Linked DNA regions of Homo sapiens. The protein of the gene in region 1 purifies or fractionates together with the protein of each later gene. This does not show direct contact. Each region holds a gene or a part of one and is shown on either strand. Other genes may lie near its edges.

Region 1 (3,500 bases):
ACCGCCTCACACAGAGCGTACATGGGTTCAGTGGTGCAACACACAGAATGCGCCCATCAGAGTGGCTGGCACGTCACAGACCAGTGGTGGCTGTAAGACAAGTCATCAGCTTAGAAGCCCCTCACCCTCACTGTGTCTTAGGTTATGCCACAGTTTTATGGCTTTTCCCTCTTTAAATAAATTTTGACGTTTATTGTAACCTGCTTTCACTTATATAAAAATATTGAGGGAGAACTCCCAGAATCTAATTTCCGATAGGCTCCAGGCACCCCCTTCTCCCACCATAGCCGTGGCCATCACTACAATTCACCTGAAATATGATCTTAGTATATTACGCCTAAGAATGTTTGCATTTTCCCCATTGATAAAGAGAAGTTCTAAGATATCTCAAAGCTCTGCTTCATGCTCTTCATAAAATTTAGGCACTAATCCATCCTGATTCAAACTTGTGTGTGTGGAAAGGATATGTATATTTTTTTTAAGTTTGAAAGGCTATATATCAAAATACTGATATAGTTATCTCTGGGGGTGGAGAATGGGTGATTTTATAATATGTGAATAACTTCCTGTATTTTCCAATTTTTTTTTTACAGTAAGTATATGTCACCTATGTAATTTAGGGTGGGAGGGGAAACATGCCAAATATAAAAAAGAAGACAATTTAAACAATAGACATGAATCAATAGTTAAGCCACATGTCTTCAGCATTGTACCAAGTGCATAATGAGTGCTAACAAATCCTGGTGGAGGGACGGAGCACCGCTGATCTGGCCTGCTGACTCAGCCTGTGACTCAGCTATTTTGTGTGTGTCAACTCCTCCAGTATAATAGAGACATCAGGTGGGGAATGTGGCCATCCTCACCTTCGTCACAGAACACAGGCCTGATGCCCACTATGAGGTGTCAGGCATGAGTCCTCCCTACAAGGGAGTGGGCAACCCACATAGGTCCAAGCTGTCTACCTCCTTCTACCCCCAACAACATGCATCAAACACGAATGTCTGCACCAAGTTCCTCTAGAGGCAGCAGAGTCATCCAATAAAATATTATATTTATATCTCATCTTGTTCCAATATGATCTAAAGTGTCTCACCCTGTTGTCATTTCACTAGATTATGAATGAATAAGAAGCAGGATACTTCCTGTTACACAGTTCCTTACTAAGAAAGGCTGACTTTACTGACTGCTTTATATTATCTCAAGAATCAAATTAAATGCATTACTTAGCTGGTGAGCACCTATTATTTGCAAGGCTCTGTGTCTGGGGGATGGAGAGAAGACCAACAAGATTCCATCTCCTTCCTCACTAGGGTTTATAATCTAAAGAAACAAACATGCTCACACATAGAGAACAATGAACAATATAATTGGAAACCGCCAGACAGGGAATCACCAACCACTGTGGGTGAAGAGAGACTGCAGGGGTCACACGACTTGAAAAAGGCAAAGCAAAGTCAGATGTCTCAGTTCCAGCATAAGTGTTTTAATATACCTGTTTTAGACCCAAATGTAATAAATATATTCTAAGATCTTGACGAATAGAAAGTTCAAAAACTGAGTTCCCCTTCCACCAACAGATTGACTACAAGTAAGCAAAATAGTGGTTGCTGGATTTTTTTCAAGTAACTGCACTCTTTAATACGTTGTGGCTGATTTTCAACTTAATAAATGTACAGCTGCACTGGGTTCTACTGTACGGATATTCTTTTACCCACTTAACCAATCACCTTTCCATGGACATATAGGTTACTCCTAATCGCTTGCCCCTATAACCATTGGTTCAGAGACCATCCTCAAAAATACAGTTGTACACTTACTCAACCATCTCCTAGGGGTAGATTCCTAGAAGTGAAATTGCTGAGTCAAAGGTAATACATCTTGTAAATTTTGATACATATTGCTAAATTGTCTTCAGAAAGTTTCCACTAATTTTTCTCGCCAACTGTGCATGGCAGTGCCTAGTTCCCACATTCTAAGTCTTGCAAATGGTTTTTTATCTTTGCACAAATTTTTTTTTATCTTTGCACATAGGATAGCTAACATATGATAAATAATTTTTAATTTGCATTTTTCTCGTTAGCAGTATTGAATGTTTTCATAGGTTTGTTGTTCATTTTTAAAACATCAAATAAAACATGACATTTTGATGATATCATAAGTCTATATCCATATAGCCTTATCTAGTCTGTATGTACATAAAGAGATGTAAGGCAGGATGTTTATCAGTGATTAACAGTTGCCTATATCTGGGTGGTGGGTTTTGGGATAGTTTTTTCTTTTTACAAAGTAAAGGTATATTTTTAAAAGTACAATTCTTCTTATAAGTAGCATTTTTATTACTCTTTAGAGACAGGTTCTTGCTCTGTCACCCAGACTAGAGTGCAGTGGTACAATCATAGCTCACTACAGCCTCAAACTCCTGGGGTCGAGCAATCCTCCTACCTCAGCCTCCTAAGTAGCTAGGAGGACAGGCACACACCATGGCACCTAGCTAATTAAAAAAAAAAAATTGTAGAGAATGGGTCTTGCTATGTTGCCCAGACTGGCCTCAAATTCCTGGGCTCAAGCAATCCTCCTGCCTCAGCCTCCCAAAGTGTTGTAATTACAGGCACACACCATGGCACCTAGCTAATTAAAAAAAAAAAAATTGTAGAGAATGGGTCTTGCTATGTTGCCCAGACTGGCCTCAAATTCCTGGGCTCAAGCAATCCTCCTGCCTCAGCCTCCCAAAGTGTTGTGATTACAGGCACACACCATGGCACCTAGCTAATTAAAAAAAAAATTGTAGAGAATGGGTCTTGCTATGTTGCCCAGACTGGCCTCAAACTCCTGGGCTCAAGCAATCCTCCTGCCTCAGCCTCCCAAAGTGTTGTGATTACAGGCATGAGCCACTGTGCCTGACCACAAGTAGCATCTATTTATAAGATTCTTTTTATAAGTAGCAAAAAATAAAGCTATTTTCATTTTAAAAAATCTACATTCTAGGATATGTTTCATGCTTAGGATAAATTTTGCACAAGCATATCTTCATAACAATACTCAGGTAAAATCCTGACGTTAGTGAAAATCACCAGGATAAAAGGCATTTTAGCAGCTTTTTGTTTATTCTTTAAGTCTAGCCTTCAAGTTAAAACAACAGCAACAACAACAACCCACTACATCACAGTCTGGTTTTTACCTATTTGGAATGTTTTTCCATGGTCAGGCCTGTGTGCCAGGCCACTACAGAGATGAAAGATCCAGCCCTGCCCTCAAGGTACTTACAGTCGAGCAGAATGTCCCCAGTGGGAGATTCTAGAGTCCTGAGGACTCTTAGAAGTGCTCTTATCAGTAGCATCTTAATTACTTTACAATGGATTTTAAATGGAAAGGAAGTTTACAATAATAGCAAATGCATATTGACAGCTCTTTAGTGCCCGGTGCTGTTCTAAGTCCTTATGACTACCCTGTGAAATAAGTTCCACCATGACCCCAATTTTCCTGAAAAGGAGACTGAGGCA
Region 2 (3,500 bases), on another chromosome or scaffold:
TTCAGCATTCTAATCTAAGCAAGATCTTGGCTTACTGCAACCTTGACCTCCTGGTCTCAAGCACCCCTCCCACCTTAGCCTCCTAAGTAGCACACACCACCAAAACTGGCTAATTATTTTATGTTTTGTAGAGATGGGATCTCACTTTGTTGCCTAGGCTGGACTCAAACATCTGGGCTCAAGCAGTCCTCCTCTTGCCTTGGCCTCCCAACATCCTGTGATTACAGATATGAGCCACCATGCCCGACCCCCTACCCCCATTTATTTATTTGTTTGTTTGTTTGTTTGTTTGTTTTTTGAGATGGAATCTTGCTCTGTCGCCCAAACTGGAGTGCGGTGGCACACTCTCGGCTCATTGCAACCTCCACCTCCCAGGTTCAAGCGATTCTCTAGCCTCAGCTTCCCAAGTAGCTGGGACTACAGGCGTGCACCATCACACCCAGCTAATTTTTGTATTTTTAGTAGAGATGGGGTTTCAGCATGTTGACCAGTGTGGTCTTGAACTCCTGACCTCAAGTGATCCACCCACCTCGGTCTCCCAAAATGTTGGGATTACGTGCGTGAGCCACCACGCTCAGCCTCTACACCCATTTATTGTATTTGTATGGTAACAAATCATTGGTATTGTGTCTGTTATAAATCATACTAATAATAGTATGAAGTTTTTTCTACTAGTTTATAATTTATTACTGTACTTAATTATTTTGGTGCTTAAATTGTACCAGATTTGGCCAGTTGAGTATCCCCTACATCTGGCTCTTACGCGGGACAAAGTGTTTAACATAATTTCTGAGTGTGTTTTCTGTTCATTTAGAAGCAGTATTTTTATACTTTCTTATACTTCATTTTGATGAATGAAAAGGGCAAAGCATTAAACAAAATAATCCTGGTAGATCAATGAACTTTGTTTAAATAATTAATAGCACAAAGCAATCAAAGCATGTAGATATAGGTTCTCTCAGAGTAGTCCATTTTTAGGTCCATAGGATGAGGTCATTATTTTTATGTTCTTTGTGTCTCCCAGCTTCATTGCTCCAACCTCCTGGCTCTTAAAGGGCCAATTGATGTATGACATCATCCCCTCAAAATGGGCTGGAGACAGCAAAACAAAGTAATATTCTGTTCCTTCCCTTGGGAAGACTAAGTGTGCCTATGTGGTGTGCACATCTCATGAGGATGACTCTAGTGGCCATATAGAGTTCTATCTATAGAGTTAGAAGAATAACTCTAATCATCTTCATGAATTTTTTATAAGAATGATCTCAATAGAACTTGTCTTCATTAGGTTAGAAAAGGCAATAAATATTCTAAAAACTCATAATGACCTATTTACTTTTATAATTGAGAGGTTATATTTTATTCTATTCATACAACTCTTGTTTTTCTGATTCTTTTTTAAGGCATATTCCCTATATTCTTTTCTTCCCATGTTCTAATTGTCCTGTTTTCTTCAAATAGGTAATTTAATTTTATTTAAATAGGATCTCATTTTCTTGAAAATAATTCTGTATTTCTTTCCTAGCGCTACCTTGATGAAGCAGACAGAGATAAGGAGCGTTACATGAAGGAACTGGAACAGTATCAGAAAACAGAGGCCTACAAGGTCTTCAGTAGGAAAACCCAGGACCGTCAGAAAGGCAAATCTCATAGGCAAGGTATCAAAACCAGAACCAAATGTATTTGTAGTTTGTTGTGGGTGATGGAGTGTCATAAAGCCAACTGTTAAGAGTGGTAACTATAAAAGATGTGTTTCTGTTTTTTCTCCACTATCCAGTATTCACTTACAAGCATTATCTTGAAATTTTATTAAAATCACATTGCTCTCATTTAGAAATTTCAACTGGGTTTCCGTGTCTATTATCAATGATTTTGACTTGTCCTCCGAGACCCCTGTTAGTTGCCTGCCCTTCTTTTCCTGATTCCCAGTTTAGGCATTTCTCTGCCTGTAAGCAAGCCTATCTACAAAATTATATCAGTAACTTCCCTTTAACACTTCTAAGCCTTTCATGTGTCATTTTTGAAGCACCATCCACAACTAGCCTATTTTTCCTTAGCCATTGCATCTTCTCTATACTTGGGCATCTAGCCTGCTAAAATTATAGATGTTGTATAAGTAGTCTTTGGTTTGTGTCTTCTGTCCACTCTTCCACCCTTTTCTCCCTAAAGTTAAGAACTGTGTCTGCTGTTTCTCTTATGCCTAATTATGAATTCTGTAGGCATGGGGTTCCCTTACTTTTGTTGGCTGACCGATTAATAAAGCCTTAAGGAAAAATATCATATGTTATGAGAATCTACATATACAAGCAGGTTTTATAGTTTGGCAGAGTCGTATACTTGGGTTTTGTTATTGCTTTCTTTTTAAATGTAATGTTCTCTTATTCTTTTATATTTTTAGATGCAGCCCGGCAGGCCACTCATGATCATGAGGTAATTAGCCATCTGTCTACATATCATATATATGTATTTATAATAATGTTGCTTTTTGAAATGCTATTGGATTTTTTTTTTTTTAATGAATGGCAAAGTATTTCCTATCTCGTAATTCAGATTAAATGAGATACTTTAGCTTGGGGGTTCTTAGCATATGGCAGACACTTACGTTGTGTGTCTGTCATTGAACTACAGCCCCTAACCTCAATCCTTTCCTGTGATCTGAGAATTTTATTGGCTTTAAATGCCAAAGATGGCTGGAATTTGGAATGAAGTATAGAAATGAGGGCTAGCTGAAAGCTATAACATGACCATAGTTTATCATCACCAAATACTTAAATCTGACTCTCAGAAAAGTTGTTATTTAAAGAATCCAGCATTTGCTTAAAGCGAACTGTTCAACTACAATGTCGATAGAGCACAAGCGACAGTATCTCAGGTTTGTTTTTTGTTTTGTTTTGTTTTTTGTTTTTTTGAGATAGAGTCTCACTCTGTCGCCCAGGCTGGAGTGCAGTGGCACAATCTCAGCCCACTGCAACCTCCGCCTCCCGGGTTCAAGCAATTCTCCTGCCTCAGCCTCCCGAGTAGCTGGGACTACAGGCTCGTGCCATCATACCCGGCTAATTTTCTGTATTTTTAGTAGAGACAGGGTTTCATCATATGAGCCAGGATGGTCTCGATCTCCTGACCTCATGATCCACCCGCCTTGGCCTCCCAAAATGCTGGGATTACAGGCGTGAGCCACCACGCCCGGCCCAGTATCTCAGTTCTCACACCTCCTTTCCTATTCCCTCACTTCACTAGCACATGTTTGTGTACTGGCTTCTTTCCTCCCACTTGGTTCAGCCCCATTGTTAGGATTTAGGCCTGTGTTTCTGTGTGTGTATGGGATTTAGGTGTGTGTGTTGTTTCAAATTCTGTTTTCTCCTTCAAACTTTTCTTGTTTCCTCTAACTTCCTTTAACCCTCATGGCTCTCTATACTTGTGTTATGTGCTTAGCTGATCTGACCTAGGGGTTTTGAGGTAATTCAAGGGCTCACACTCTTTGGTTGTAATGTCTTTGTGGACAT
Region 3 (3,500 bases), on another chromosome or scaffold:
CTGGAGTACAGTGGCGTGATCATGGTTCACTACAGCCTCAAACTCCTGGGCTCAAGCAATCCTCCTGCCTCAGCCTCCCAAGTGGCTGGAACTACACCCCACTGGGCACTACCATGCCCAACTAGTTTTTAGAAATTTTTAGTAAAGACAGGGTCTTGCTGTGTTGCCCAGGCTGATCTCGAACTCTTAGACTTAAGAGATCCTCCTGCCTTGGTTCCCCAAAATGCTGGGATTACGGGCATAAGCCACCATGCTGGCCTTTTTTTTATGTTCTGATCAAACAGCTCAGATTGTAATGCCTATACCTTTCCACAGTGCTACACTACATAAGAGCTTTCTCGTACCATTCACTCTCCTGCACGCATGTCTTTCCATCACATCCCCGCAATCCCATGTACACACACCCCACGCTGCCTCTCACTCCTGACGGGCAGGACCCTGCCTCTCGCCCACAGGGGAAGCCTTGGGCATCAAGTACCCGGTCCAGGTCCCCTACAAGCGGATCAAGAGTAACCCCGGCTCCGTGATCATCGAGGGGCTGCCCCCAGGAATCCCGTTCCGAAAGCCCTGTACCTTCGGCTCCCAGAACCTGGAGAGGATTCTTGCTGTGGCTGACAAGATCAAGTTCACAGTCACCAGGTACTCAGTGGGAAGGGTGAGGGTGAAGAGGCAGGACTAGCTCAGATGGGAGCTTGCACCTGCGAATCCTTAGCCTTTCCCTAGGTCCTGCCCTCCCCCCTGGACAAGGTGGCTCTCCTGGCACCATCCTGGGTCCTGGGGGTGGTTGGAGAGGGACTGCAGGCCAGCCCAAGTGAAGGGAGCCCTTCAGAAGTGGGACTGGTCACCCCCCCATGGCAAGGGCAGCCTTTGAGGGCATCTTCAACCTGTTCAGCAACACCCGCTCACTGCACCCCCAGCCCCCGGGAAAGGTATTCAGCCCCCATCAGAGGGATTTGCCCAAGGTCCCGGGGCCAGCCAGGGCAAAGCCTGCACAAGGCCCAGGTCTGCGTCCTGCAGAGTGACACTGCCAATGCCAGCACCCTGCCACATTGTCTCAGTGTCCCGCACACACAGAGCCCCAGGGCAGCTTGTTAAAATGCAGATTCTGCTGCTGTAGGTCTGGGGTGCTCCCAGGGGAGACCGAGGCCACTGAATCCCAGGGGTGTCTTCCTCATCCCCCAGGCCCTCCCCATGACACCCCTGCCTCTGTTTCTCTTCTAGGCCTTTCCAAGGACTCATCCCAAAGCCTGGTAAGAGGCACTGGCTGTGGAGGGGGCACTGGGAATAGGGCCCGATCGTGGTGCTGGGGACTGGAGCTAAGCCTGCTGTGGGGCACAGGTTCTGGGGTCTGGGAACAGAAGCCAGGCCCCTGCCTTTCTTTTTTTTTTTTCTGAGGCAGAGTCCTTCTCTGTCACCCAGGCTGGAGTGCAGTGGCTTCATCTCGGTTCACTGCAACCTCCACCTCCTGGATTCAAGCAATTCTCCTGCCTCAGACTCCTGAGTAGCTGGGATTACAGGCAATTGTCACCATACCTGGCTATTTTTTGTATTTTTGGTAGAGACGGGGTTTCACCATGTTGGCCAGGGCTGGTCTCAAACTCCTGACCTCAAGTGATCCACCCACCTCGGCCTCCCAAAGCGTTGGGATTACAGGCGTGAGCCACTGCGCCCGGCCTAGGCCTCTGCCCTTCTGTTTAGCCACCTTACCTGGGCTCCTGCCCCAGGTAGATGGAGGAAGACTAAGCTTGAATGTGGCCCCAGATCCTGGGACAGAGAAAGGGGTGGTGGCGTCAGTGACTTCTAAGTTTTACCCAGTCTGGGTTCAGGAGGGAGGGGCCAGGCCGAGTCAGTGCACCTGCTCCTCCTGATAAAGGGGCTCTGGTTGACCTCAGTGAATAGGCGAGGTTGGAGGTGAGTGGGTTCCTAACCGCAGAAGGAGGGGTGTCTGCATGGGGACCACAAGCATGTTGGTAAGATGTGGGTGGCGCCTACCCTGCCTTAAACAGTGCAGTGCCTCTCCTGACCCTTTTTAAAAAAATATTTTATATATATAATAAAATATATACATAATAAAAAATATATATAATAAAAATATTATATATAATTAAAAATATTTATATAATTAAAATATTATATATAATTAAAAATATTATATATATAATAAAAAATATTATATAGAGAGAGAGAGAGACAGAGACAGACCAAGTCTCACTTTGTTGCCCAGGCTGGAATGCAATGGCACTATCTCTGCTCACTGCAAACTCCACCTCCCAGGTTCAAGCTATTCTGCCTCAGCCTACCAAGTAGCTGGGATTATAGGTGGGCACCACCATGCCCGGCTAATTTTTGTGTTTTTAGTAGAGCTGGGTTTCACCATATTGGCTAGGCTGGTCTCAAACTCCTGGCCTCAAGTGATCCTCCTGCCTCAGCCTCCCAAAGTGCTGGGATTACAGGCATGAGCCACCACACCCGACCTCCTGACCCTTTTTAAGGCACCCATCCACTTCTGTCTCCACCATGGACTGTGTCCTGGCCTCCCAAACCCAGATTTGCAGGGGCTGTCCCTGCAGGGTGATCCCAAACCCAGATTTGCAGGGGCTGTCCCTGCGGGGCGACATGCCACTTGGCAAGCACTAAGGGCTGGCCAGAGCCTCCAGGGCGGGCCAGGCACGGTGGCTCACACCTGTAATCCCAGCACTTTGGGAAGCCAAGGCAGGAGGATCACTTGAGGTCAGGAGTTCGAGATCAGCCTGACCAACATGGTGAAACCCCATGTCTATTTAAAATCCCAAAATTAGCCAGGTGTGGTGGCGCACACCTGTAATCCCAGCTACTTGGGAGGCTGAGGCAGGAGAATCACTTGAACCCGGGAGGCAGAGGTTGCAGTGAGCCGAGATCGCGCGACTGCACTCCACCTTGGGCGACGGGACTAGATTGTCTCAAAAAAAAAAAAAAAAAAAGAACTTAGGGTACAGTGATGTGGCGGCTGCTGACAGGCCACGGGAACCCCCAGAAGGGGGATCAGGAGGGTGAGGGGTAGTTGGAGAGGGTTTCCTGGAGTAAGGATGGCCCTGCTTGGGCCTCAGGGGAAGATGGGACTTTGAGAGGCAGAGAGGAGGGTGGGTTTGGCGGGGTGAACGGCAGGGGTTGGGGGGTCACTGGATGCCAGAAGTGTGTTTCCGGAGCTCTCGGAGGGGCAGAGTGGTCAGATGATGTTGGAAAGGTGGAGAGAGTGGAAGCTGCAGCAGCACAGTGCAGTGAGTGTGGCTCCAGTGGACACCCGGCTGAGAGGTCACTGGGTTTCTGGCCCTGCACTGGTGCTTTATGCGGGTGCCTTTCACACATATTTTGGGAGGTCCTGCTGGGACAAGGTGGTATTCTAGAGGAACTAGGGTTACAGCAGAGTGCAGACAGAGGAGGCATCTCATTTAGTCTTCATAGCTAGGAGGTTGACGCTAGAGCCCACCTTACAGAGGGGGAGACTGAGGCTCGGTGTGAGT
Region 4 (3,500 bases), on another chromosome or scaffold:
CTGCTGTGATGATGGTTAAATACACTGTGACTTGTTATCAACCAATCTTTAATGATTCTATTCTTCCATTAAAGTGCATGCTATTTAACAATTCTATGCCAAAGTGTTACCTCTGAGCATCCACTCTCAAAAATTTTGAGTGACTTTACCTAATTGGTCTCAAGAGAAAATCAATGGGCTTGGAATTTCTTCATGTTCCCTTATTATTCCACTATGATCAGTTTGTCAAAGGCAGAACCACAAACCATTCAAACATATTCATTTTTATCATGAAGCAACATAAAAAATCCTGTGCCCACATGGTATAATTGATAAATGACTCCTAAATGGAATTAAGTATCCTCATAAAAGTCCACTAAGAATTTCTTGATCAGATATTAACTAAATTTCCCACTGTGCCTCGATGATTGACCTTTGCAGCATCATGGGCTTTGAGGGGAAAAAAATCTTTCATTAAATATGCAGAACCCATTACCAGTCATCCTTGTGGTTGTCTGAAGTAGCACTTCCGGATTTGAATGGCTTGGGTTCCACTGGGTCCAGTCCTGGTTCTGTTTTGTGTGGTCAAAAGCCCGTGGTGTGGTTGAAACTGTGATAACGATGATTGAAGCAATTAGAAAAATGTTATTTCTTGAGCCTTCGCCACTTGTCCCGCACATAGTCTTGCTTCTGTAGGCTATGCAATGAATCATCTATACCAGGTTGTATAGATGGCTGCATGGAAATGGAGGGAAAGCGGAGGGTGACTTCAGCTTAATTCAGCCATATTGGTAAGCATCTCAGTGTCCTTTGCATTCTGTCATAGAATACCTTGGGGTTCAGAACATGAGATCTTCCAGATAAAACAGTCAAAGAAGCTGCAGCAGTAGGAAGGACAGCTTTGAAAACACCAGCCCTCCACCGAGGATAACCAAAGGCGCCATTTTGCCCATCCATGCAGTCTGTAGTATCCCTCTGCACTTGAAAGCCCAGGGACTTAGTCACTGTGTGCTGTTTGTAGATCCTCCGGGTGAAGAGGCAGATAACTGAAAGTTATACCATGATAATCACTTTATGTTGTTAGTAATTTCAGTGGGGAAAGGAATGCCTGAGCAGCTAGAGCTTTCCTATAGATGATTCTGAAAAAGAATACCTAGAATAGCCATATGTTTTAGCGATACATTTCTGAATATTTATCAAACACTATGGTATTCTCATCAAATACAAAATATGTCATGAGCAAGCCATTCATAGCCAGTGAAAGAAAATAAGACACCACAGGTAACCAGCCACCATCATAGCAGCACACTGGAAAGAAAGAGGCGTACATCCACCAGCACCCTGATATTGTCACCCAATCTGTTAGGGCTGGAATAAGAGATGCACCTAACAGAAGGATCATGACAAAATCTGAGTCAACATGTTTTGTGAAAGGTTATTTGCAAATCCATCCTAATTGTTTCAAACTTTATTTTGATACCCAAATAACGCAAAACTGTTTTCAGAACTATAATACTGTCAGCTCTATTTTACAAGTTATGAAAAATCAAGTTTAGAATCATTAACCACATTCTCAATAGGCCTGAAAAAGTGCTTATTATCAAGCAGTTATCACACCCCTCCAGAAGAAAGAGGGCATCATGTTGAATTATGTCCATAGGTGCTAAGCAGAAAAGAAAAAAAAAGAAAAGCAGAAATTGGAAAAATATGCCATAGAGATTTAAAAAATTAAAAAAAAAAAAAAAAAAAAAAAAAAACAACACCATGGGAAATTTTTCCCTGAAGCCTGACCATACAATTCATTTACAGGTAGATCTGTTTGGGTTACCACCCAAGGGAATTTAATTTCTTCAGTATCAAGACCACGTATTTACTGATGGGCCCATCTGCAAAGCTGGGCCACATGCTGAACACAGGAGACAGTATAATGTAAAACTCCAGTGTTTTTGATTATTTGGTTTTTGTTCTGAAGTTACCAAAAGGAATTTTCTTATTCCATAGATTAAGCTCTGGAGGGGTGTCGGGTCTAAAAAAAAAATCACTTAAAAGTTTAGATAGAAAATTCTAGTTCCTTTTGAGTATTTGTCATATCAATGTTATATACTCAGATGCCTTCAAGGCCTAAGCTATTTTTTTTTCTGGACCCTTTCTTCTCTGTCCATTTGAGGATGAAATTCTCAGATTTTAATGGAATGGATAGAACTTCAGTGAATTGGGAGAGCTCACACAGCACCCCAAAAGCCTTTTTTCTAAGGAAAAGCAGAACTGTGATGGAGTCAGGTTCAGGATTCTCAGCTCTGTTCAGCAAAATCTTAAGTCATTACAGGTATGTGTGGAAAACTCAGTAATCTGGCAGAATATTAGACCAACCTTTGCATGTTTTTAACTTTTTAAGGATATCTTTAAAGCTCAATTTCCATCTCTTTGTTCTCAAAAAGTTTTATAATTGTCAAAAATTTGGATACTATTATGTACCAATAGTGGTTTCATTATTTGCTTTTAATAAGTGGCAATGTCTTGCTAAAGCTAACCTGACATTTGCCCTTCCCTTCAAGGTCTTTCTGCTATATTGGTGTCCAGCTCATTTGTTAAAACTCTGGATTTGTTCCTTTGACCTCAGCTGGGCTTTGATTAACTAAGATAATTCTTGAGTTCTAGCTCCCATCATTTAAGCCTTTAGGGCCTTCAATTTAGGAACTTCCACAACTTTTTTTTTTTTTTTTTGAGATGGAGTCTGGCTCTGTCACCCAGGTTAGAGTGCTGGAGTGCAGTGGCGCGATCTCCTCCTGGGTTCACACCATTCTCCTGCCTCAGCCTCCCGAATAGCTAGGACTACAGGCACCCGCCACTACGCCTGGTTAATTTTTTGTATTTTTTAGTAGAGATGGGGTTTCACTGTGTTAGCCAGGATGGTCTCGATCTCCTGACCTCGTCATCTGCCCGCCTCGGCCTCCCAGGGTGCTGGGATTACAGGTGTGAGCCACCACGCCTGGCCTACAACTTTTAATTAATACCCTCCTCATCACATTCTTCAAGTCTATTGCTCCAACAGACCATGAGCTTCTGAAAAGCAAAGGCTCTGGCTCTTTTCATCTTCGTGTTTCCAGCACCTAGCACAGTAAGTACACAATGTACATTTTTTGTACTGTTTTAATGTCATTCTCTGATAAAGCCTGATCATTCAAAGACAATCTGTAGCAGTAGATCCCATAGATAAATAAAACAGGAAGAACATGAGACAAGAGAAATTTTGTGAGATATTTTCCCCACTTCTCAAAACATTCTATTTCTTCTTCCATAATCTCATCAAGATATAACTAAGGTATGATCATAGGTTCACCCATTTTTCACATTAACTACTTCTCAAGAGAGATACAATTTGGTATCACTCAGATTAATCAATAAGCCTTGCATAAATGGCTGTACTGTAATTGATTATTCTTACTGGTGCTGGAGATAAAATCTTCATCATCATCAATGCCTGATCCAGAAAAACTGAGGTGTCTGTCTCTTTCATCTTC
Region 5 (3,500 bases), on another chromosome or scaffold:
GGGGGCCTCCCACCCTGGGTCCCCAGCCCTGCCCTCCCTGAGAGCTACTCACCAGGCACTGAGCCCGCAGGCTCAATGGTGACCAGGACAGAGGCCTCTAGAGGCACGGAGCTGCCCAACACTCGGCACACGTACTCGCCCGAGTCGGCGGGGGACGCTTGGTAGAGTCTCAGCAGGGAGCCGTGGGTCTGGCCAGAATGGGGGTGAGTCAGAGGGAGCCCTCAGGAGACCCCTGTTCCTATAACCTGCAACCCTGCCTCACTCTGACCCCCAAGGCCTGGCCATCAGCTCTGGATCAGTTTCCCTGTCCTTCACATGGGGAAGGGGGACTCTTGTCCAGCAGCGGGGTGGTAGACCAGAGGAGCCCCAGTGAGCTGGGTACACACTCACACCACATCCCATCAATTCTAGACACACATTTCGATGTCTCCAAAATCAAGATGCATCTACAATGAATAACCTTACAAATAGAAGCTTTTTCTTAGAGGTACATAAAATCATAGCGGATCTCGCAATCAGTGGTATCCTAAATTCTACAAAATATGGTAACAACAATAGCTAATGGCATTATAGTAAAATATTAACAGCTTAGAGTACTTTCTGTGAGCCTAAGCTCTGAGGATTTTGCATATATTTTAATCTTTAAGATAATTCTGTGAGGTACTTTTTTTTTTTTTTTTGAGACTGAGTCTCGCTCTGTTGCCCAGGCTGGAGTGCAATGGCGTGATCTTGGCTCACTGCAGCCTCCGCCTCCTGGGTTCAAGCGATTCTCCTGCCTCAGCTTCCCGAGTAGCTGGGATTACAGGCGCCTGCCACTATGCCCGGCTAATTTTTATATTTTTAATAGAGATGGGGTTTCACCATACTGGCCAGGCTGGTCTCGAACTCCCGACCTCAGGCGATTCGCCCACCTCGGCCTCCCAAAGTGCTGGGATTACAGGCGTAAGCCACCGTGCCCGGCTGGTACGTACCATTGTTACCATTTTATAGGCCCTGAAACTATAGCACAGAGAGGTTAAGTAACTTGTCCGAGGTCACAAGCTAAGTGGTGGAGCCAGAATTCACACCCAGGTTAGTCAGTCCTAGATTCTGGTTTCTAACCACTGCACTATACATCTGTGCAATGGGGTCCAGGGCTTCCTGATCTCAGGGGAGCCTCTAGCCCTCCCCCAATAACCTCCGCCACCCAGGGACCCGCTTCCTCTTCTTGGCCTGTCTGTCCTCCAGTCCCATACCTGGTGCCGGACAGGGAGGCTGCCCCCACGCTTGTGCCACGTGACCTGGGCATGGGACTGCCCGGGCACCACGCAGTTCAGATCCAGGGTCTGCCCTTCCGCCACTTGCGAGGAGGAGGGCTCGATGCGGATGGGCTGGGTGCTGCCGGCAGCTGAGGGATAAGATGGTCACCGGTCACTCCTGTTCTCTGAAGCCACTCCAGCCTGTTCTCTGCATCCCAGCCCAGCCTGGTGGCCCCACTCACGGTAGGCTAAGTTGGCCCCCTGGGTCCCAGTTACTGTGACCGTGATGGAGGCCTCCATGCCGTTGCTGGCCCGGCAGACGTACTGTCCCGCATCGGCAGGTGAGGCCTGGAAGATGTACAGGCGGGAGCCACGAACCTGGGCAGCCGTGGGCAGAGGTGTGAGGGGGGCTTCCCGGAGGCCAGCAAATGCCCCACCGCTGTCCCCCCGATCTAGGAAGTGCCAGCCCCTCAGCCTAGGGGCCAGGATCCTGCAACCCACTGTCCATGGCCCCGTCCCACATTCTTGGTGCCCTGTACCTGGTGCCGGGCAGGGAGGCTGCCCCCACGCTTGTACCATGTGACCTGGGCGTGGGCCTGCCCTGCCACCACGCAGCTCAGATCCAGGGTCTGGCCCTCGGCCACTGTGGAGGATGAAGACTCGATCCTGACAGGTGGGATGGGTCCTGCAGCAGTGGGGATGGGAGTGAGAGTTGTAGATGCTCCTGAGATGAGAGGGCAGGGGTTGCCCACCCTGCAGCTAGCTCAGCCCAGGGTTTCAAGGCCAGATCCAGCTTTTCAGGCATCTGGGGGCCTGGACTTGATGCCCTCAGCTCAGCAACCCTGATGGGAGGACCAGGGCATGGGCCACGCCTTGCAGAGGGGAGTGAGGAAGTGAGAGAGATGAGGGCAGAGATGAGTTGGAGAGAGGAAGAGGAGGTGGGAGGGGACGCCTGAGGAGTCATGTGGCCAAAGCAAAGTGTGACGGGAAGGCGGTGGTTACTCTGACAGGTGGAGTCGGCCTGGGCAGGGCCCTGCAGCCAGCTCCGGTGTGGGCCTTCTGCCCTGTCAGCAAGAGGGGTCCCTTGGATCTCACCACCCCGGAGGCCTCTCTGCCTCCTCCAGCTTTCCATGTCACTGGGAGTCACTCACCAGGGATGACAGAGGCTTCGATGGTGACCAGGACTGAGGCCTCTAGGGGGCCGGAGGTGCCCACCACATGGCACACATACTCGCCTGAGTCGGCCGGGGTCACCTGGTGCAGCCGCAGCAGCGAGCCGTGGGTCTGTGTGCAAATGGGGTGGGTTGGGAGGGGGCTGGAACAGTCCCATCCAGCCCCTCCAGCAAGGTGGTCCCGGGGGGCTGCCATACCTGGTGCCGGGCAGGGAGGCTGCCCCCACGCTTGTGCCACGTGACCTGGGCGTGGGCCTGCCCGGGCACCACGCAGTTCAGATCCAGGGTCTGCCCTTCCGCCACGTGTGAGGAGGAGGGCTCGATGCGGATGGGCCGGGTGCTGCCGGGCACTGGACACAGAGCGGCTGCTCAGAGGCCTGAACTCTTGGGCTGTAACCTGTAGCCCTGGGGCAGAAGGCTCTGGGCTGTGACCAGGCCCTAGTGGGGACGGCCGACAGGTGGCCTTTCTGGGACTAGGGCCACACCCTTCTGCCTCCACATGGCCAGCCGAATATGGCTTCTTCCCTCCCCAGCCTCTAACCACAAGCTGGAGGCCCATTGACCCACCCATGACTTCTTGATGATGAGCTCCTCTGGCCCATAGGGAACCAGCAAGCTTTACTACCCAGGCTGCGCCCAAGGATGCGGATGACAGTGAGACACCTCCCTTCTACAGGACGTCTTCCGTGTGCTCACAAGTACTTTCCATAGACACTGTCTCATTTAAACCACACCATGACTGGCCAGGCGCGGTGGCTCATGCCTATAATCCCAGCACTTTGGGAGGCTGAGACGGTCGGATCACGAGGTCAGGAGATCGAGACCATCCTGGCTAACACGGTGAAACCCCGTCTCTACTAAAAAAAATACAAAAAATTAGCCGGCCTGGTGGCGGGTGTGCCTGTAGTCCTAGCTACTCAGAAGGCTGAGGCAGGAGAATGGTGTGAACCCGGAAGGCGGAGCTTGCAGTGAGCCGAGATCACGCGCCACTGCACTCCAGCCTGGGTGACAGAGCGAGACTCTCTCTCAAAAAAATAAAATAAAATAAAATAAAATAAAATAAAATAAAATAAAATAATAAAAAAACCAC
Region 6 (3,500 bases), on another chromosome or scaffold:
TGAGCTGAGATCACGCCACTGCACTGCAGCCTGGGCGACAGAGGCAGACGCCGTCTCAAAAAACAAAAAACAATTTGATGAATTCAACTTTATAAAACATAATTAAGGCACAATGATTAACTCTGAAGTATTAACAATTCTTTTGTCTTACATTTATGTATTGTTTTAAAAATGGTTTGACAGTCACCACTCTCATTTTCAAAGTTCTCTGTTAAGGTGAGGTGGACAGCATGGCTCCTGTTTTTAGGAAAAACACACACGCTCATCCAGGTGAAGTGACCGGCATACAGCTCGGAAGTGGGACAGCAGTAAAAACTAGGTCTTCACTGCCCTGCACGTAGTGAGATTTATAGACTCAGCTATCATCATGCATTAAAACACAGTATTTGACTTGGAAAAATTCCATTTACATACCACTTTCTTCTCCAAATATAATGTTAATGATATAAAAAGACAGCATGTCTTTATGTATATCTAAATCTCCTGAAGGTTTAGAAAAAACTTTCACAAATTCCCCTTCCTCCTATAATTCACATGCAGAGTACATACTAGGTCCCCGCTATCTGCAATCTGAAGTTTAATGTTTAGAAGCGTTTTTTCGCCTGTAATCCCAGCACTTTGGGAGGCCAAGGTGGGCAGATCACAAGGTCAAGAGATGGAGGCCATCCTGGCCAACATGGTGAAACCCCGTCTCTACTGAAAATACAAAAATTAGCCCGTGTGGTGGCGTGCGCCTGTAATCCCAGCTACTCAGGAGGCTGAGGCAGGAGAATCGCTTGAACCTGGGAGGCAGAAGTTGCAGTGAGCTGAGATCGTGCCACTGCATTCCAGCATGGTGACAGAGTGAGACTCCGTCTCACAAAAAAAAAAAAAAAAAGTCATTTCTTAAAATTCTGACCGCTCAAACTGTGTCACATTGTTTCCATAGACATAATTTCTTTCTTTCTTCAGTTACTTTATTATGAGCTTCTGCTCCTCTCCATCTTTTTTAAAACTGATTTTAAAAATGTGATACATAATACATGTACATATTTTTATGGTACCTGTGATATTTTGACACATGTATACAATGTGTAATGATCAAGTCAGAGTAACTGGGATATCCAGCACCTGAAACATTTATCTTTCCTTTTGTTTCTTTTTGGGCTAGGGAAGGAACCCAGGCCTCCCATGTTGCTGCTGAGGAATATCTTTTCTTTGTGTTGGGAACATTCCAATTCTTCTCTAGCTATTTTGAAATATACAATAAATTATTGTTAACTATAGTCTCCCTACTGTACTACTGAATATTAGAACTTATCCTATCTAACTGTATTTCTGTACTTGTTAACCAACCTCTGATAACCATCATTCTACTCTCTACCTCCATGAGATCAACATTTTTAGCTCCCACATGAGTGACAACATGTGTTATTTGTGTTTCTATGGTCCATAGGCTTAGTTTTTCAGCTTCCAATTAAACACATTCTAATTATCAAACACTTAAAATGTCAAAATTGGGAAGAAATTCTTATTAAAAAAAACTTGGCTGGCTAGATAACTTTTTGTTTTTATTTTTGTTTTTGTTTTTGAGACAGAGTTTCGCTCTTGTTGCCCTGGCTGCAGTGCAATGGCACGATCTCAGCTCACTACAACCTCCACCTCCCGGGTTCAAATGATTCTCCTGCCTCAGCCTCCTGAATAGCTGGGATTACAGGCACGCGCCACCACGCCCGGCTAATTTTTTTTGGTATTTTTAGACGAGACAGAGTTTCACCATGTTGGTCAGGCTGGTCTCGAACTCCTGACCTTAGACGATCCACCAGCCTCGGCCTCCCAAAGTGCTGGGATTACAGGTATGAACCACCACACCTGGACTAGGTAACATTTTTAAAAGGAAATAATATAACATTTATTTTGAGAGTTGGATAATTATATTCACACTAGCTTTTCATTTGTGAAAATTTAAGGGCATTGAAGGGAACATAGAGAATTCAAATTTAAGCTCAATATATATAAAATGAAAGAAATGCTAGGTCTTGTAAGTTTTTAAATATTCCTGAAACTGAATATTCACCTAGTTTTAAAAAATACAGAAGCTGCAGAACTCCTTTATATTTTTACTTTGAACAAAAAAGTAAGTAAAAAATCAATATTAATTTACATTGATAGTGCCTGAATAAAGATGTAAAAATTTAGAAACCTAGAGTTTTTATGGTTATGGCTTCTCTTTTAAGAGATTTTTTAGAAATAAAAAATAATTAGCAGAATGAATCAGTTTTCCAACTAGTATGCTGTAACACTTTTTGAGCCTAGGGTTTATGGGAAGTAAGGTAGAGGTTCACATAAAAGGGAGCAAAGTTGGTAAACATCTTTAGCAAAAGACAAATTTCAAGACAACTTGCTTTTCTATTATTTGCACTGGAAAGAAGTTATTGATTATGCTTCCTTAAATCTTTTAAAAATATGTGGGAATCATAGATAAATGCACATAATTAATCATATTTTATAATTAAGCTCTTATTTTTTTATTTTTTATTTTTTTTTGAGATGGAGTCTTGCTCTGTCACCCAGGCCGGAGTGCTGTGGCACAATCTTGGCTCACTGCAACCTCCGCCTCCCAGGTTCAAGCAATTTTCCTGCTTCAGCCTCCCCAGTAGTGGATTACAGGCACGCGCCACAACACCCAGCTAGTTTTTGTATTTTTAGTAGAGACGGGATTTTGCCATGTTGGCCAGGCTGATCTCATACTCCTGACCTCAAGTGATCTGCCTGCCTCAGCCTCCCAAAGTGCTGGAATTATAGGCATGAGCCACCATGCCTGGCATCTTATTTCTTAATTTTAAAAAAAGCAGTAGCTGGAGTTGAAGACTTCCATGTTTTGTAGTTTGGCAATATTTCCTAAATATAAAACTTTAAGCACGAGAGTTTTGATGCAACTCTGGCATAGCATTTTAGTGAACGTATTCACCCAGTAACTTGTTCTAGTAAGGGAAGAACGATGGGCAATCCAGCCATATGATCAAGTGACTTTTCTTATCAAAGCTCTTTGGATGTTTCCATAAAAGGTACGACTAGGGTATCATCTGTTTTATGTCCTCATCAGCTTTAATGTCACTACTCACAACCCGTGCCCTCATGCCCTCTCCATTATTCAATGATTAGCACATTTCCTTTGGCTACATTGAATGTGTTCCATCATTAACTACAAGGTCAGAAAAACTGGCTAACCAGTTATTTCTTTAGCATTTTACCTTTTTGACACACTTTGCCTTTTTAAAAGCAGTTGATTTAAGAATAATTTTATTTAATAAACATGAATCTAAATGTACTTAGGAAGTTTACACCTAAAAAGAACTAGGGAGGCATGATTTATTAATGCCATGAGCCAATATCTAATATTTCTACTTAAGGATAAATTTATTGCTGGTCATAAACTCCCCCCTCCTCCTCTACATTTCCTGACCGCTCAAACAAAAACATTTTATGAGTTGACGAATCAATCAGATGTGTCTCATTCA
Region 7 (3,500 bases), on another chromosome or scaffold:
ATAACATATCTTTCTCTGAAGGATCAGCAGAACTTACTTAAACAACAATCTAGCTCTGGTGCCATTTTTTGATTGAAATTTTTGTTGAGATAACTATAGACTCACACACAGTGTAAGAAATAATACAAAGATCTCTTGTGCCCCTTCCTAGTTTCCGCCAATGGTAACATTTATAAAACTACAGTAAACATCACAACAATGATATTGATATTGATACAATCTACCAATCTTATTCTGATTTTCCTAGTTTTACCTGTATTCATGCTGTGTATGTTTGTGTATGTGTATCTACACAGTTCTATGACATGTATGGATTTGTATATATACATTATCTTTATACACACACACACCTTTTAAAATATAACCAAGGTCTCACTATACATAGGTTTATATCTAACTTTTTGTGTACTATAGTTTCTAAGTTATAAATACCCTTCAAATAAATCTTTAATGGCCACATGATATTCAGTGTCTAAATTAGAATCTTATTTAACAATTACTCTATTATTGTACACTTGGGTTGTTTCCATTTTTTTAACTATTATAAGTAAGAGACTTCAACAAAGACATTAAATACTATTTACCTGGTAATGATTTCCTTTGGACAGATTTGTGGAGGTAAAATTACTGGGAAAGATGAGCTTTTCACATCTTAACACGGATTTGTCCTGTCCCTGTAAGGAACCTTTCATCAGCCAGAAATAATAAATGGCATATTTTCTCACATCATCCACTTTTAGAGAAAAGCTGACTACAAACATATTCCCAATATCTCAGCGTAGAACTAGTCTACCCCAAGACAAGAAGAAAGCCCCTGTTATGAAAAAGTAGGCCTTAGCATGCATATGCTGAGCCACCCTCTGGGCTAGAGCTTATCAGATGAGCCCAACTAATGTGTGTGCCAAGCCCTTATTCTTCAGAGAAGCAGAAAGCCAGGAATTATAACTAGCATGTGACACAACGCATGGACATTCCCTTATGCTAAAAAGTCCCTACTTATTGTGTCTCACATAATCCTAAAAACTTATTTTAGGATATTCAGTTTTACAGATGAGAAAACTGAGCCCAGAAGGTTAAAAAACTTGCCCAAGGTTACATAATAAGTGTATCCAAACCCAGGCAACACTACCATAGTCTGCTCATTTAGATTCTTGCTTGTGGTCTGCACAGTACTCAGACCAGGCTCAAGTGCTCTAGAGAGGGACCAAACGGAAGGCACCAGTTAAAAGCCCCACTCTGGAAATGGAGATCCAGGCCAGAAACCATATGAGGAGACTAAAACACTTTATGAGATTTATAGTTTAAAAAGACCCCCAGTATATCAAGTCATGTAGTCTTCTATCTAGAATGAAAGTTATTTTTACCACGCAGCTGTTCTTTATGTTACACTGGCTTGTATCAGAAAATATATAAAAAAATACTAGTGATATGGTTTGGCTGTGTGTTCACCCAAATCTCACCTTGAACTGTAATAATCCCCATATTTCAAGGGCGGGGCCAGGTGGAGATAACTGAAACATGGGGGCGGTTTCCCCTATACTTTTCTTGTGGTAGTAAGTCTCACAAGATCTGGTGGTTTCATAAATGGGAGTTCCCCTGTACAAGCTCTCTTGCCTGCCACCATGTAGGACGTGCCTTTGCTTCTCCTTTGCCTTCCACCATGATTGTGAGGTCTCCCCAGCCATGTGGAACTGTGAGTCCATCAAACATCTTTCCTTTATAAATTACCTAGTCTTGGGTATGTCTTTATTAGCAGAGTGAGAACAGACTAATACAAATAGACATTAGATCACGAATACGCAGGACAATGTATACCACTCCTAGTAAACAATGAACACTCAGTTCAAGGTAACAGGTTACCATGAGCTATTAGAAATTACTTGCCTTTCTGTAAGGTGAATAAATTCCATGTTTCAATAATAAAATTAGAAGTATTTGACAGGGGATTAATAATTACTTATTAAGTTAATCTTCACATTTCTCCTACCACACCCTAAAGTGCAGAAAAAGTAAATATTAAGGAGAGAGAGTTTTTCTCGTTCAACTCCATCATTTTAGAGATGAGAAAACTGAGGTCTCACAGGGATTAAGACAGTTAATTACATGTGTATAAAACCTTGCTTTTGCCTTGACTTAAAATGTTGTATATTTAGTCTACTGTATTTATATTTAATAACAAATTACACATAAATACATACTTAACTCAGCTGGTTGCAGTGGCTCACGTCTGCAATCCCAGCACTTTGGGAGGCTGAGGCAGGCGGATCAGTTGAGGTCAAGAGTTCAAGACCAGCCTGGCCAACATGGTGAAATCCCGTCTCTACTAAAAATACAAAAAAAGAATAGCCAGGCGTGGTGGTGTGCACTGTAATCCCAGCTACTCGGGAGGTTGAGGCAGGAGATTCACTTGAACGGGGGGAGGAGGTTGCAGTGAGCCTCATTTATGCCACTGCACTCCAGCCTGGGCGACGGAGTGAGACTCTGTCTCAAAAAAAAAAAAAAAAAAAAAAAAAAAAAGAAATACGTATTTAACTTTTCCCTTAAAAAAAATTTTCCTTTAATAATTGCGTATCTTGTCCCGTGTGTCATTCTTATACCATGAGACTAAATTCTATTAATTGCACACACTCCTTAAACATCACGGTTACTTGTATTTAATATACCTGTGTAATCATAAAAAAAAACACCAAAATGCTTTGTAGAGAGCATACTTACTGAGTCTTTGTGACATTTTTCACAAAATAGACTGAATAGTAGAGAAAAAAACTGTGAAAACATGTCTTTAATAACATTTTTCCATTTTTCCAAGACTATGCATTGGCTATCACGCCACCAGCTGCATACTCATTGGCTTCACTCTGCTGATGTGAAATGCAAATGGAAAATCTCCAAAGATTTCAAGGCTTCTCTCTTCTCCCACTCCTACCAATTCTTTGAGATACTTGAGAAAAACAGACATTCACAATTCTATTTCAACAGTGTCCTCTCCCATTCAGAGGCATTCACCCCTCCATCCTTGTTGCTAAAGCTAATGCTGCCTAGAAACAGACTTATCAAAATGCAGTTGAGATTTTTAATAGTAAGACCTAAAGCCCAATGGCTAAAAGAAGAAATTTAATGCATTTCCACTCTTTTTTTTTTTTTTTTTTTTGAGATGGAGTCTCACTCTGTCGCCCAGGCTGCAGTGCCATGGCATGATCTCGGCTCATTGCAACCTCCGTCTCCTGTGTTCAAGCAATTCTCCTGCCTCAGCCTCCCAAGTAGCTGGGATTATAGGTGCCCATCACCACGCCCGGCTAATTTTTATATTTTTAGTAGAGACGGGGTTTCACCATGTTGGCCAGGCTGGTCTCGAATTCCTGACCTCAGGTGATTGGCCCACCTCGGCCTCCCAAAGTGCTGGGATTACAGGCATGAGATATCGCGCCAGGCCACATTTCCACACTTAAAAAATAAAAATAATCCCTTTTCTGCCCCCAGATCCCCAAAATATACTCACT

What was found.
Region 2: the proteins of FGF1 (region 1) and HMG20A purify together in Homo sapiens (affinity purification with mass spectrometry; 3 studies listed by BioGRID and IntAct, with this or other methods). This does not show direct contact.
Region 3: the proteins of FGF1 (region 1) and GTF2IRD1 purify together in Homo sapiens (affinity purification with mass spectrometry; one large-scale study listed by BioGRID and IntAct). This does not show direct contact.
Region 4: the proteins of FGF1 (region 1) and CD44 purify together in Homo sapiens (co-immunoprecipitation; one large-scale study listed by IntAct). This does not show direct contact.
Region 5: the proteins of FGF1 (region 1) and HSPG2 purify together in Homo sapiens (affinity purification with mass spectrometry; one large-scale study listed by BioGRID and IntAct). This does not show direct contact.
Region 6: the proteins of FGF1 (region 1) and KLHL7 purify together in Homo sapiens (affinity purification with mass spectrometry; one large-scale study listed by BioGRID and IntAct). This does not show direct contact.
Region 7: the proteins of FGF1 (region 1) and SDC2 purify together in Homo sapiens (affinity purification with mass spectrometry; 2 studies listed by BioGRID and IntAct, with this or other methods). This does not show direct contact.

Annotation. Positions count from the first base shown.
Region 1 is NC_000005.10:142,595,591-142,599,090, reverse strand, and holds part of FGF1 (fibroblast growth factor 1 isoform 1 precursor), read left to right. Parts: intron 1-3,500. UniProt on the Homo sapiens protein: Plays an important role in the regulation of cell survival, cell division, angiogenesis, cell differentiation and cell migration. Functions as a potent mitogen in vitro. Acts as a ligand for FGFR1 and integrins.
Region 2 is NC_000015.10:77,469,388-77,472,887, forward strand, and holds part of HMG20A (high mobility group protein 20A), read left to right. Parts: intron 1-1,522; coding exon 1,523-1,655; intron 1,656-2,395; coding exon 2,396-2,427; intron 2,428-3,500. UniProt on the Homo sapiens protein: Plays a role in neuronal differentiation as chromatin-associated protein. Acts as inhibitor of HMG20B. Overcomes the repressive effects of the neuronal silencer REST and induces the activation of neuronal-specific genes.
Region 3 is NC_000007.14:74,558,406-74,561,905, forward strand, and holds part of GTF2IRD1 (general transcription factor II-I repeat domain-containing protein 1), read left to right. Parts: intron 1-455; coding exon 456-639; intron 640-1,221; coding exon 1,222-1,250; intron 1,251-3,500. UniProt on the Homo sapiens protein: May be a transcription regulator involved in cell-cycle progression and skeletal muscle differentiation. May repress GTF2I transcriptional functions, by preventing its nuclear residency, or by inhibiting its transcriptional activation.
Region 4 is NC_000011.10:35,198,171-35,201,670, reverse strand, and holds part of CD44 (CD44 antigen isoform 1 precursor), read right to left. Parts: coding exon 3,425-3,500; intron 1,026-3,424; coding exon of another isoform or gene 754-1,025; exon of another isoform or gene 590-753; coding exon 476-589; exon of another isoform or gene 4-475; coding exon of another isoform or gene 1-3. UniProt on the Homo sapiens protein: Cell-surface receptor that plays a role in cell-cell interactions, cell adhesion and migration, helping them to sense and respond to changes in the tissue microenvironment.
Region 5 is NC_000001.11:21,850,311-21,853,810, forward strand, and holds part of HSPG2 (basement membrane-specific heparan sulfate proteoglycan core protein isoform b precursor), read right to left. Parts: intron 2,761-3,500; coding exon 2,609-2,760; intron 2,523-2,608; coding exon 2,390-2,522; intron 1,924-2,389; coding exon 1,778-1,923; intron 1,617-1,777; coding exon 1,481-1,616; intron 1,388-1,480; coding exon 1,236-1,387; intron 189-1,235; coding exon 53-188; intron 1-52. UniProt on the Homo sapiens protein: Integral component of basement membranes. Component of the glomerular basement membrane (GBM), responsible for the fixed negative electrostatic membrane charge, and which provides a barrier which is both size- and charge-selective.
Region 6 is NC_000007.14:23,168,285-23,171,784, reverse strand, and holds part of KLHL7 (kelch-like protein 7), read right to left. Parts: intron 1-3,500. UniProt on the Homo sapiens protein: Substrate-specific adapter of a BCR (BTB-CUL3-RBX1) E3 ubiquitin ligase complex. The BCR(KLHL7) complex acts by mediating ubiquitination and subsequent degradation of substrate proteins. Probably mediates 'Lys-48'-linked ubiquitination.
Region 7 is NC_000008.11:96,500,313-96,503,812, reverse strand, and holds part of SDC2 (syndecan-2 precursor), read right to left. Parts: intron 1-3,500. UniProt on the Homo sapiens protein: Cell surface proteoglycan which regulates dendritic arbor morphogenesis.